Linked DNA regions of Homo sapiens: region 2 is linked to region 1. Evidence: fine-mapped expression QTL. Tissue or cell type: whole blood. Region 1 holds a variant in brackets; the other region holds the start of a gene. All regions are shown on one strand. Distances are between the middles of the regions.

Region 1 (5,207 bases):
CAGCAGTTCAAGACCAGCCTGGGCAACACAGGGAAACTTTGTTTCCACAAAAAAAAAAAAAAAAAAAAAAAAATTAGCTGGGCATGGTGGCATGTGCCTGTGGTCCCAGCTGCTCGAGAGGCTGGGGTGGGAAGATCCCTTGAGCCCAGGTCAAGGCTGCAGTGAGCAATGTTCCTGCCATTGCAATCCAGCCTGTGTGACAGAGTGACACTCTCACTAAAAAAAAACCCAAAAAACGAAATGGAAGTACCTAGTTGGCTACTTGCATCTAGAAATCAGGAGAGAGACCTGGGCTAGAAAAAAACAAGATTTGGGAGTTGTCAGCCTACAGGCAGCAGAGGAAGCCATGGAAATGAACAAAATCATGCTGAGGAGAGTGCAGACTGAAAAACCCCAACATTTAAGGTCAGGTGGAGGAGAGGCACCTGGGATGAAACTCAGAAGAGGCCATACAAAAGTGGGTCATGAAAATTAAATCAGGAAGAAGGGAGTGGCCAACAGTGAACAATGCTGTCAAGTCAGAGAACAAGAGGTCAAGTATGAACAAGTGAACAAGAATGCTGTTCAAGTAAGAGACCAAGAGAAAAGTGAATTTGAATTTAGCACACCAGGACATTGTTGACGGCCCTGGTGGAAGCAGCTATGGGAAACTGATGCGGCAGATGCAAAAAACAGCAGATCAAGTATATGAGAGGCGAAGGAGGAAAGAGGACAGTAGCTGGATGATCTTTTCTTTTTCCCTTAAGAGAGTTGCTAAGGAATAATCTTTGTTGCTGTTATTTTGTTTTGAAAAAAAAAAAAAGGAGAGATTTGAGGATGTATATACAGGCTAATGGGCAAGATAAGAGAGGTTGAAAATGGTATGGAGAGAGTGGGAGAGGATGAGGTCCAGAGCCCAGACAGCAGGGTCAATTTTGGATCTATTTAAGATAAAGATATAAGATAGGTAGGTGGTCAGAATGAAGTTCATCTGGAAGAGGCAGGAAGTTGAGAAAGTTCCTGTTTGTGGTATCATTACAGGCTCTTTGAAAACAACCAAAAATGTCAAAGACCCTTTGAGGGTTTACATAAAAGAAAATGTCCTCCCTGTCTACCCACCACAGCCCAGCTATTTCAATTCTACGTGACTTCCAAGACTCAGGGCAAACTTATCTTCTGGGAAGATTCCTCTGAAGGCCTTAGTCAAATGGAAATCTCTTCCTTGACTGAATATTCACAGTTCTTTGTACCATTCACACGTCTTACTCCTGCACTTGGGACAGGGGCTCTATCTTGTAGATCTCTGTACCTACTACAAGACCCTCTACTAATGAGAGAGCAACAAGTACCTGCCAAATGAAGACCTGAGCAACATGTAGTGTGCATGCTGGTGCCACGTGGGCAGCACGGACATGGAGGGCTCTAGGGAGGAATGTCAAAGGAGATTGTTCATCCACTGGGGGTGATAAGAAAGACTTCATGGAAGAATGGACACTGGAGCTATGTTTTAAGGGTTGATCTTCTGTGGATAAAAAAGATGGGAAGAAGGAATGGAAAAAGTATTCCAAGTGGAGAAATTTTTAATAGCAAAGCCACTTTAAAAGCAAGTTTAAAGAACAAATTGTTCTATTTGCCGGAGATGATTTAACAACAATAAGAAACATGGTAATGCTGCTAACATTTATTGAGTACTTACTATATCATCAGGCACTAAGCATTTTACCTACATTATCTCATTCCCCACAACCACTGTAACCAATATTACATATGCTATGTGAATTACATCTCAAAAAAGCTCTTACAGAAAAAAAATGTAAAAAGTAAATATATTTTTTTTAAAATTGCTTTTTGCTCTACAAAAGACCCTGTGAAGAAGATGAAAAGATAAGCTACAGACTGGGAGGAAATATTTGCAAAGCACATATCTGACAAAGGACTACTATCTCAAATATATAAAGAGCTCTCAAAACTCAAAAGTAAAACTATTCATTGCATCAGTGTTTGTAACTGCAGGTAGTCAAAAACAACCTAAATGACCATGGGGAAACTGATAGGTAAAATGTGCTCTAGTCACATGCTAGATTACTATACAATAGGTAAAGTAATAAACTGGACATATTTATCAACATAGATGGATCTGAAGCATAATTTGCATGATAAAAGCAAATCGTATACAAATAGCATAACACTATTTTTGTAAAATTTTTAAGCTCACAAAATAATGTCTGTTTTATATGAAAAATATGGCTGCTGAATTAGAAAGATATACATTAAATATATGGGAGCAGATGTCTATAGTCAAAGGAGAAGAGTGGGAATAAAAGCAATAAGAACCAAAATTGGCTATAACTGAAGTATACAGATAATCAAATCATATCAGTCCATTTGTACAACTGAGGTCTTACAGAACTAGCAAAACAAAAAAACAAATAAACAAAACTGTGATACAACCACACCAAATACTTAGGTAAGAGTTAAAAGGAAGTCATTACACTGAGGTATATTTTTCTGACATGGAAAGATCTCCAGGATATATTGTTAAGTGAAAAAAATCAAGTCAAAGAACTATATATACAATGTTGTAACATTTATGTAAAACAAAACTACAAAATAAAACTCTTATATTTCTCTCCATCCCCCAATCACACACATGTTCAAATGTACAGAGAAGGTTTGGAAAAGATAACTATGAAAACATAGTACATAGTGATATAAGAAAATGTCCTGAATTATTCATTAAAAGTATAGAATTAAAAATAAAGGAAACAGAAACTCCAGGAAAAAACAAAAAGCAGTAAGAAAGGAAATGTAATCCTACATTTCCTTGTTTTGCAATAATATTTACAGTCATCACCAACAACACAAAAGGAAACAAAAACTCAACAGTTAAGAAAAATAGAAAATAGGCAAAAGACACAAAGAGATATTTTACTGAAGAGGATATATGGATGACAGATAAGCA[C/T]ATGAAAAGATGTGCTTGGTATCCATTAAGGAAATGCAACTTAAAACCACAATGAGATGGCACTACACATCTATTATAAACATTAAAATAAAAAATATTGACAGTGTTGAACGTTGCCAAGAGTATGCAAAAACTGAATCTCTCATACACCCTTGGCAGGAATGTAAAATGGTACAGCCTCTCTGGAAAAGTTTGGCAGTATCTAATAAAACTAAACATATGTTTACCATACAACCCAGCAATTGTACTCCTGGGCGTTTATCCCAGATAAATGAAAATTAACATCCACACAAAGAGTTATACCCAAATGTCATCTTTATTTGTAATAGCCCAAAACTGATGACAACCAAAATGTCCTATACTAGTTGAATGGTTAAAAAACTGCTGTACAGGCCAGGCACAGTAGCTCACGCTTGTAATCCCAGCACTTTGGGAGGCCGAGGCTGGTGGATCATTAGGTCAGGAGTTCAAGACCAGCCTGGCCAAGATGGTGAAATGTTGTCTCTACTAAAAATACAAAAAATTGGCCGGGCACAGTGGTAGGAAGCTGTAATCCCAGCTACTCAGGAGGCTGAGGCAGGAGAATCACTTGAACCCAGGCAGCAGAGGTTGCAGTGAGCTGAGATGGTGCCGCTGCACTCCAGCCTGGGTGATAGAGTGAGACTCCGTCTCAAAAAACAAAACAAAACAAAACAAAAAAACTGCTGTACATTCATACCACAGAATACTGATCAGGTACCAGAAAGAATGAACTACTGCTACATGCAACAACTTGTATGCGACTCAAGGACATTATCTTGAGTGAAAAAAAAAAAAGCCAATCTCAAAAGGTCACATACTGTATGATTCCATTTATGTAAAATTGTCAAAATGACAAAATTATGGAGATGGTTACCCAGGGTTAGGATGATGAGAGGGAAGAAAGTAGGTGTGACCAGAAGAGTAGCTTGGAGATATTTCTAGTGATGCAATAGTTCTTTATCTTGATTGCAAATCTACATATATGTAAATCTTGATTAAATCTATACAAGTGATAAAATGGCCTAGAACTATACATACATTGTGCAAATTTCTATTTTCTAGTTTGATACTGTACTGTACTCATGTAAAATATAATCATTGGGGAAAATGGGTGAAGGATACATAGGACTTCTTTGTACTATTTTTTTTTTTTTTGCAACTTCCTGTGAATCTATACTTATTTTGAAATAAAACGTTTTTTAAAAGTACAACAGAGCAAAAAACAGAGCTCTTAAAAATTAAAAACATGGGCTGGGCACAGTGGCTCACACCTGTAATCCCATCACTTTGGAAGGCCAAGGCAGCAGGTGGATGGCTTGAAGTCAGGAGTTCAAGACCAGCCTGACCAACATGGTAAAACCCCGTCTCTACTAAAAATACAAAAAAATTAGCTGGGCGTGGTGGCAGGTGCCTGTAATCCCAGCTACTTGGGAAGCTGAGGCAGGAGAATCGCTTGAACCTGGGAGGCGGAGGTTGTAGTGAGCCGAAATCGCACCACTGCACTCCAGCCTGGGCAACAGAGTGAGAGTTTATCTCAAAACAAACAAACAAACAAATTAAAAACATGATGGCAGAAATTAAAAACTAAAATGAAGGATTGGAAGATAAAAATTAAATCTCCCAAAGGGAGCAGAAAGACAAAGATGAGGGAAACAGGAGATGAAAGTTACGAAAATCAGAGAACCAGTCATATAGGTTATCTATATGAATACAGAACATCAGAATAATGAATTCAAGAAAAAGAGGATGGAGAAAATAGGAGAGAGAAAGTTAAGAAAATTTTCAGACTAAAAAGACATAAATTTCTGGTGCCTATCAAAATGAGTGAAAATATAAATATCTTTGTAAAGTCACACTGGGGACAAAAAAAAAAGGTTCCACAAGCTTCCTGAGAGGAAAATTCAGTCACAAAGCAAGAGAATGGCTTTGGACTTCACAACAACACAAGACACTAGACCACTAAGCAATGTTTTGCAAGATGCTGATGATGGCCAGGTGTGGTGGCTCACACCTGTAATCCTAGCACTTTGGGAGCCCAAGGCAGGATTGCTTGAGCCCAGGAGTTCAAGACCCTCTTGGGCAACATAGGGAGACCCCATCTCTATAAAAAATACAAAAAAATGAGCTGGGCACGATGACACACACCTGTGGTCCCAGCTACTCAGGAAGTGGGAGAATCATTTGAGCCCAGGAGGTCAAGGATATAGTGAGCCATGTTTGTACCACTGCACTCCAGCCTGGGTGA
Region 2 (5,115 bases), 56 kb after region 1:
TATTATGGGTCTCAAACTGGGGTTAGAAAAATATGGTTCTTGAATCTGTGGTACCATCTCTGCTGATCCCATACCACTGTTGTGAATCAGCGAGATAATAAATGCAGAGCTTTCTACATGAATTTTTGCACAGATCTGAGGTCTTATCATGAGGCGGAACTGTGTTAGACTTGGAATGTGACAAGAATGTGTGATAAGCCACTGGCTGAGGGAGTACTACTGCATGAGATATCCTGCACAGTCCAGGATAGCATCTGTCCAGAGGAACTGAAAGGGTGCAACTTCGAGCAAGCCAGAGCCGACTTTGAATTTATGTGTGGCTGTGTGTTTTCTCAGGGCTCCAAGTGTTTTATACCTTGGGTCAAATTCTCCCCCTGCGGAGGAAGCTCCTTTCTGGAAGTAAATCAGGCACATTTAGAAGATTCGTTAACTCTTTGGCTCCTGGGGGATTATGGCCAGCATTTTCTCTCTTAGACTTCCCACAGCGAATTCCTGGTTGGGCCAAGCTGATATCTTTGAGCTGACTTCTGTACTCAGGGTTCTTCCAAACAGGAATATGCTTTCTCTGCCTAAGATCTGGGTTCCATGCCCATCTCAACCTCAATCCCTCCTTCAAGGAAGTTTTTCCTAACTCCTCGGCCAGACATCAATAATGTCTGAAGGGAGGATTTCTCCCGAGTGCCAGACTTGGAATTCCTGTTGTCTTCAGGAGCTCTCCCTGGCGCTCCCTCCTTCCCCCAGGGCCTTTAAACTGTTTCTCCTCCAGTCTGCCCACTTGATCCATGTGGGTAGACATGTTCCATGGCCTTCAGAATAAGATCTTTTGTGGGGTACTCAGTCCATAAACAGAAAATTGCCTTCATCTTGGATGCTGGTGTTTCTGGCCTGGTGAGAATGAAAGTGTGGAATTTGTTTGTAGGACTCAAAGTTTCCATTAACAATAAATATGAAAAATATATAATGCAAAGGCTTTTGTTATTGTTATTATTAAAATAGGAAAGCCTTTACCTTTTTGGAAGAACCGATTTAGATTTTGCAGAGTAATTCAGTCTTTAAAAGGTAGTGGTAGTTAAAATAGGTAATCTTTGACTTGTAAAGAGACTAATTTAAATTTTGTTAAGTAACCAATTAAGGCCATAAAGAGTTTAAATCCATCTGTGGCTTCTCATTTTCTCTAGAACAAATTCCTAATTCCCTACGATGAAATTCTCTTGCTATCCTAATTTTTTGCCGGCTCAAAGGACTAACCGTTTTCCCCAAACACGCGGCCCTGAGCCTCCGGTGCTTTGCGAAAGCCGTCCCCTCCGGCTGGAATGTTCTTTGTCTCTCTGGTAAATGTCTATTCATCATTCAAGACCACCCTTCGCCCCTCCCCTTAATTACTTCCTCCCCTGTGCGCCCTCAAATTCTTGTACTCATTCAAGCAGTATTTATTAGGGGCCAGCTTTGTGGCCGGCACCGTGGCGGGCTCTGGGGCTACAAAAGGTGAATAATACTTGGGCTCTGCCTCTGAGGGCCTTACACGTTAGGGAGGAGTGGGTCAACTGCCACAAACGTCGCTAGGAAATTAAAAGGAAAATTTTACAAAGTGGCAGTTCTTGTCTGTCTTCCCCTCCAGATGGCCCGTGTGTTGTTTTCGGGCCGGGGCTATTTCTCATTTATTTCGCACCCCCGGTTCTTAGTGCCCTGTAGGTGCTAAATCAGCATTTGTTTCATGAGTGCTTTTTCTGGGGGCAACCAGACCCCTGCAGAAGTGTACCTGTGTTGTGCCAGAGGTTCTGATGATAGGCTTATAGGCGGTAGTTTCCTCAGTGTCCGTGGGTCGCCCCCGGTCCCGGGTTGGATGCCCCGCGGTCCAGCACCGAACCTTTCGGGGTGCAGAGTTGCAGAGCCGCGGAGGGCCCGGGCCGTGCGCAGCCGAAGGGAGGCCTGCAGCGCCCCCTCTGGATGCAGCGGGCACCGGCCGGCCGCCCCGCTCACCCGCTCGCACCCCACGTTTGTTCACCAGTATTTCAGTTTACGGTCAGAAAATGAACACAGACACTTCGTGATACTCTACACTTTTCAAAGGCGTAAGGGATGCCTTTTAAAGGATTATGGATTAGAAAAATTCCTCCCTCTTTCTTGTGCCTCTGGGCCCTTGCATTGTGATTCTATCTTACGTAAATAAAGGGGGCTTTGCTCTCCTAATTGTGCCCACTGTTCTGTGCAGCGCGGACCGGCGCATGCAGCGAGCGGGGCTGCGAGGGCGCTGCTGTGGCCAGGCGTCTGGCATGCTGACCACGTCGCGCTGCTGTAAAGGAAACCTGCCCCGCGCAGCGGCGGTGGCTGGAGCGGGAGAAACCGGACTTTGTGCAACTTTGGCCATAGTGGCCATCCCATGAATCTGTTTACTAGCTTGGTGGTGGGTCCAACAGAGCTTGTTGCTCCCTAGCCGCTTGCTCGTGCCCTTGGTGGTTACCGGTAGTTAAGCTTAGGGCGCATAGGGCCCTCGTGGCTCGCCACCTCTCACGGTTCAGTACCCACGCTTCGAACGAGGGATGGGAGCAGGCGCCACGGCCGGCACCCCAGAGCCCTGCTGCCCCTTAGTTCGAGCGGCCATCCTCCTGTGGGGCTTGTGGGCAGCCTGTGGGGTTTGTGGGCGGCCTGTGGGGTTTGTGGGTGGTCTAAGGAAAGAGTTGGGGCACTCAGGGGTCTGCTGTTTTTGCCCGTGGCCTTAACTCATCAGGGGAGGGTTTCTGCAGCAGAATCTCGGGCTCAGGGTTGGCGGTTAACGAGGGAGCAGCGGGGTCTTGGGGAGGGGGCTCGACACCCCTGAAGGTGCCCCCTAAAGGAGCCACTGTTAGAGGGGCACCCCATCTTTGTGGCCATGGCGGTGGTAGAGCGGCTGGGAGGGGCTCTGCGGCGAGCAAGGGAGCAGGCGGTAGGGGTTCTGCGGCGATGGGCGGGCTAGGGGCGGGGCGCGGGTGGGCTCTAAAAGTCGGTGCCCACTCGCTCCGCGCTGCCGCGGCAACCAGCACACCCCGGCACCTCCTCTGCGGCAGCTGCGCCTCGCAAGCGCAGTGCCGCAGCGCACGCCGGAGTGGCTGTAGCTGCCCGGCGCGGCGCCGCCCTGCGCGGGCTGTGGGCTGCGGGCTGCGCCCCCGCTGCTGGCCAGCTCTGCACGGCTGCGGGCTCTGCGGCGCCCGGTGCTCTGCAACGCTGCGGCGGGCGGCATGGGATAACGCGGCCATGGTGCGCCGAGATCGCCTCCGCAGGTGAGTGTGCGGTGGGAACGAGGGGGTGTGGCTGGCGGCCCTGGGACTAGGGCGCAGGCGAGCGGAGGACTGTGTGCCCGTGTCCGAGCTGGGGCTGCCTCTGGGCGAAAACTCTACCGACAGGCGGCACGCATTCCGCGCCCGCTCTGCCTACTTGAGGAGGGGGTGTCACTCCTGCCCGCAATGGAATGTTCAGAACGCGGGACCTCCTTGGGTTAGGATTTCTAGACCCCGGGATCGTCGTGGTGAGATTTAGGATTTCTGGACCCCAGCGTCATCTTGATATGACTTAGGATCCATAATGACCCTGGTCTCACCCTGATGCGAATTGGGATTTTTAGATCCTGGCATCACCCTGGTGCGATTTAGGATTTTTATACTCAGTCATTGCTGCAGCATGATTTAGGATTTCTAACCCCCAGCATCGCCCTGGTTTGATTTAGGATATTTAGACTCCGGCTTCCCTCTGGTGCGATTCAGGATTCTTAGACTCCGCCGTTGCCGTGGCGCGATTTAGGATTTATAGATCCCGGCAAAGCCCTGGTGCGATGTAGGATTTTTAGAACCCCAGCATCGCTCTGGTGCGACTTAAAGGATAGGCCCCAGCATCGCCCTGGTGCGATGTAGGATTTTTAGAACCCCGGTGTCTCCGTGGCGCACCTTAGGATTTCAAGAACGGGATAATCGCAGTGCCGAGATCGCCGCGGTGCAGCTTAGGATTTCAAGACCCAGGTATCACGGTGGCGGGAGTCACCGCAGTGACTAGAACTCGCAGTGCCCGTCAGCCGCCTTAAGTATTTTTCAGATTTCAGTAACAAGCGCGAGTGAGAACGGCGATGTGACCAAACTGTCATGTTGCGCAGGGATTGTTCACCTTGGTTTCGCGGGTTTTCAAAGTGGTTCGTCTCGCGGCGACGCCATCAGGTGGGCGGCAGGTTGGGTGGTATTATTACGGGAGTGTGTTTTTCTGTTTACAAGATGAAGAAATCAAGGCTCAGAAATTTTTGGAAAGTTTGTTACTGGAGTTTGCTTATTGTCTCCGCTCATGGCTCATCAAATAGTTGGGATTTTGGCCAAAAAATGTTTGCTTAACCCATTTTGCCTACTGACGGCTAGGTTGCTTCACTTCTAAAAATCCTAAAAGTTCATGGGGGCATTTTTACTGAGGTAATAAGACAAAAAATGGCCCCCTGAGAGGTTGCCTCTTTGCTTTCTTGGAGTAAGAGGAGGAGGGTGTGGAGGGGGGTGTCCAGGAGTGGAGTATGTTGGTCGATAGCCTCGTTTTTTAACCCCCCACTTTCCCTGAGCAGCGGCGGGGAAGCCTCCCCATTTGCCGCTCTGGCCGCCCCTCCCGGGGCTCTCTGCTGAGTCACTGCAGAGATTCAGCTGCTGGAACCCCGGGGATGAATGCGATGAGAAGCACTGGGGGAAAGGAGTAATGAAATCTGCACATGAAAATGTATACATTGAAGTACAGGACAGATAGGGCTGGGCAAATGATCGTCAAAACCTAATGGTTTTTGTCATCTGACCTTTCAAGGAGATACTGGGATACAGCCTGCTATTGTTGGGTGAAAACTGTGATATAACCATCATGTTCTGGCACTTTTTTGAACCATTTCTAGTATTACCTTGAGAAGTAGGACCAAATGGTTCTATCCGTCTTATGGACAGGTACTTTGGAGAAAAAAAGAAATGACTGCCCTAATAATGCCTAAAAAATAGCCTGGGGAGCTGACATTGTTTAAGAAACATGGTTATTTTACCACTGTAAAACCACAGGCTTGTTTTTAGATTTTAGCAAAAAGTATCAGGGATATGGGGGGGAAAAGTATCTTGTAAGTTGAGGAAGTTAGCG

What was found. PIP is the estimated chance that this variant, and not a neighbour inherited with it, causes the effect.
Region 2: it holds the start of MEST, and the variant in region 1 is fine-mapped to the expression of MEST in whole blood (INTERVAL, PIP above 0.99).

The regions. Positions count from the first base shown.
Region 1 is chr7:130,432,541-130,437,747 of GRCh38, forward strand. All of the region lies in intron 1 of CEP41 (centrosomal protein 41), which reads right to left. Among named protein-coding and RNA genes, the nearest start is that of CEP41, 5.9 kb to the right of the region's middle. The variant C/T (reference allele first, on the strand shown) is at 2,942.
Region 2 is chr7:130,489,083-130,494,197 of GRCh38, forward strand. MEST (mesoderm specific transcript) reads left to right here and starts at 3,003. Exons shown (of 12, transcript NM_002402.4): 1 at 3,003-3,257. The coding sequence starts at 3,232. It overlaps MESTIT1 (MEST intronic transcript 1, antisense RNA), which reads right to left and starts at 1,895. Exons shown (of 2, transcript NR_004382.2): 1 at 1,760-1,895; 2 at 1-885. RefSeq lists a silencer at 1,831-2,040.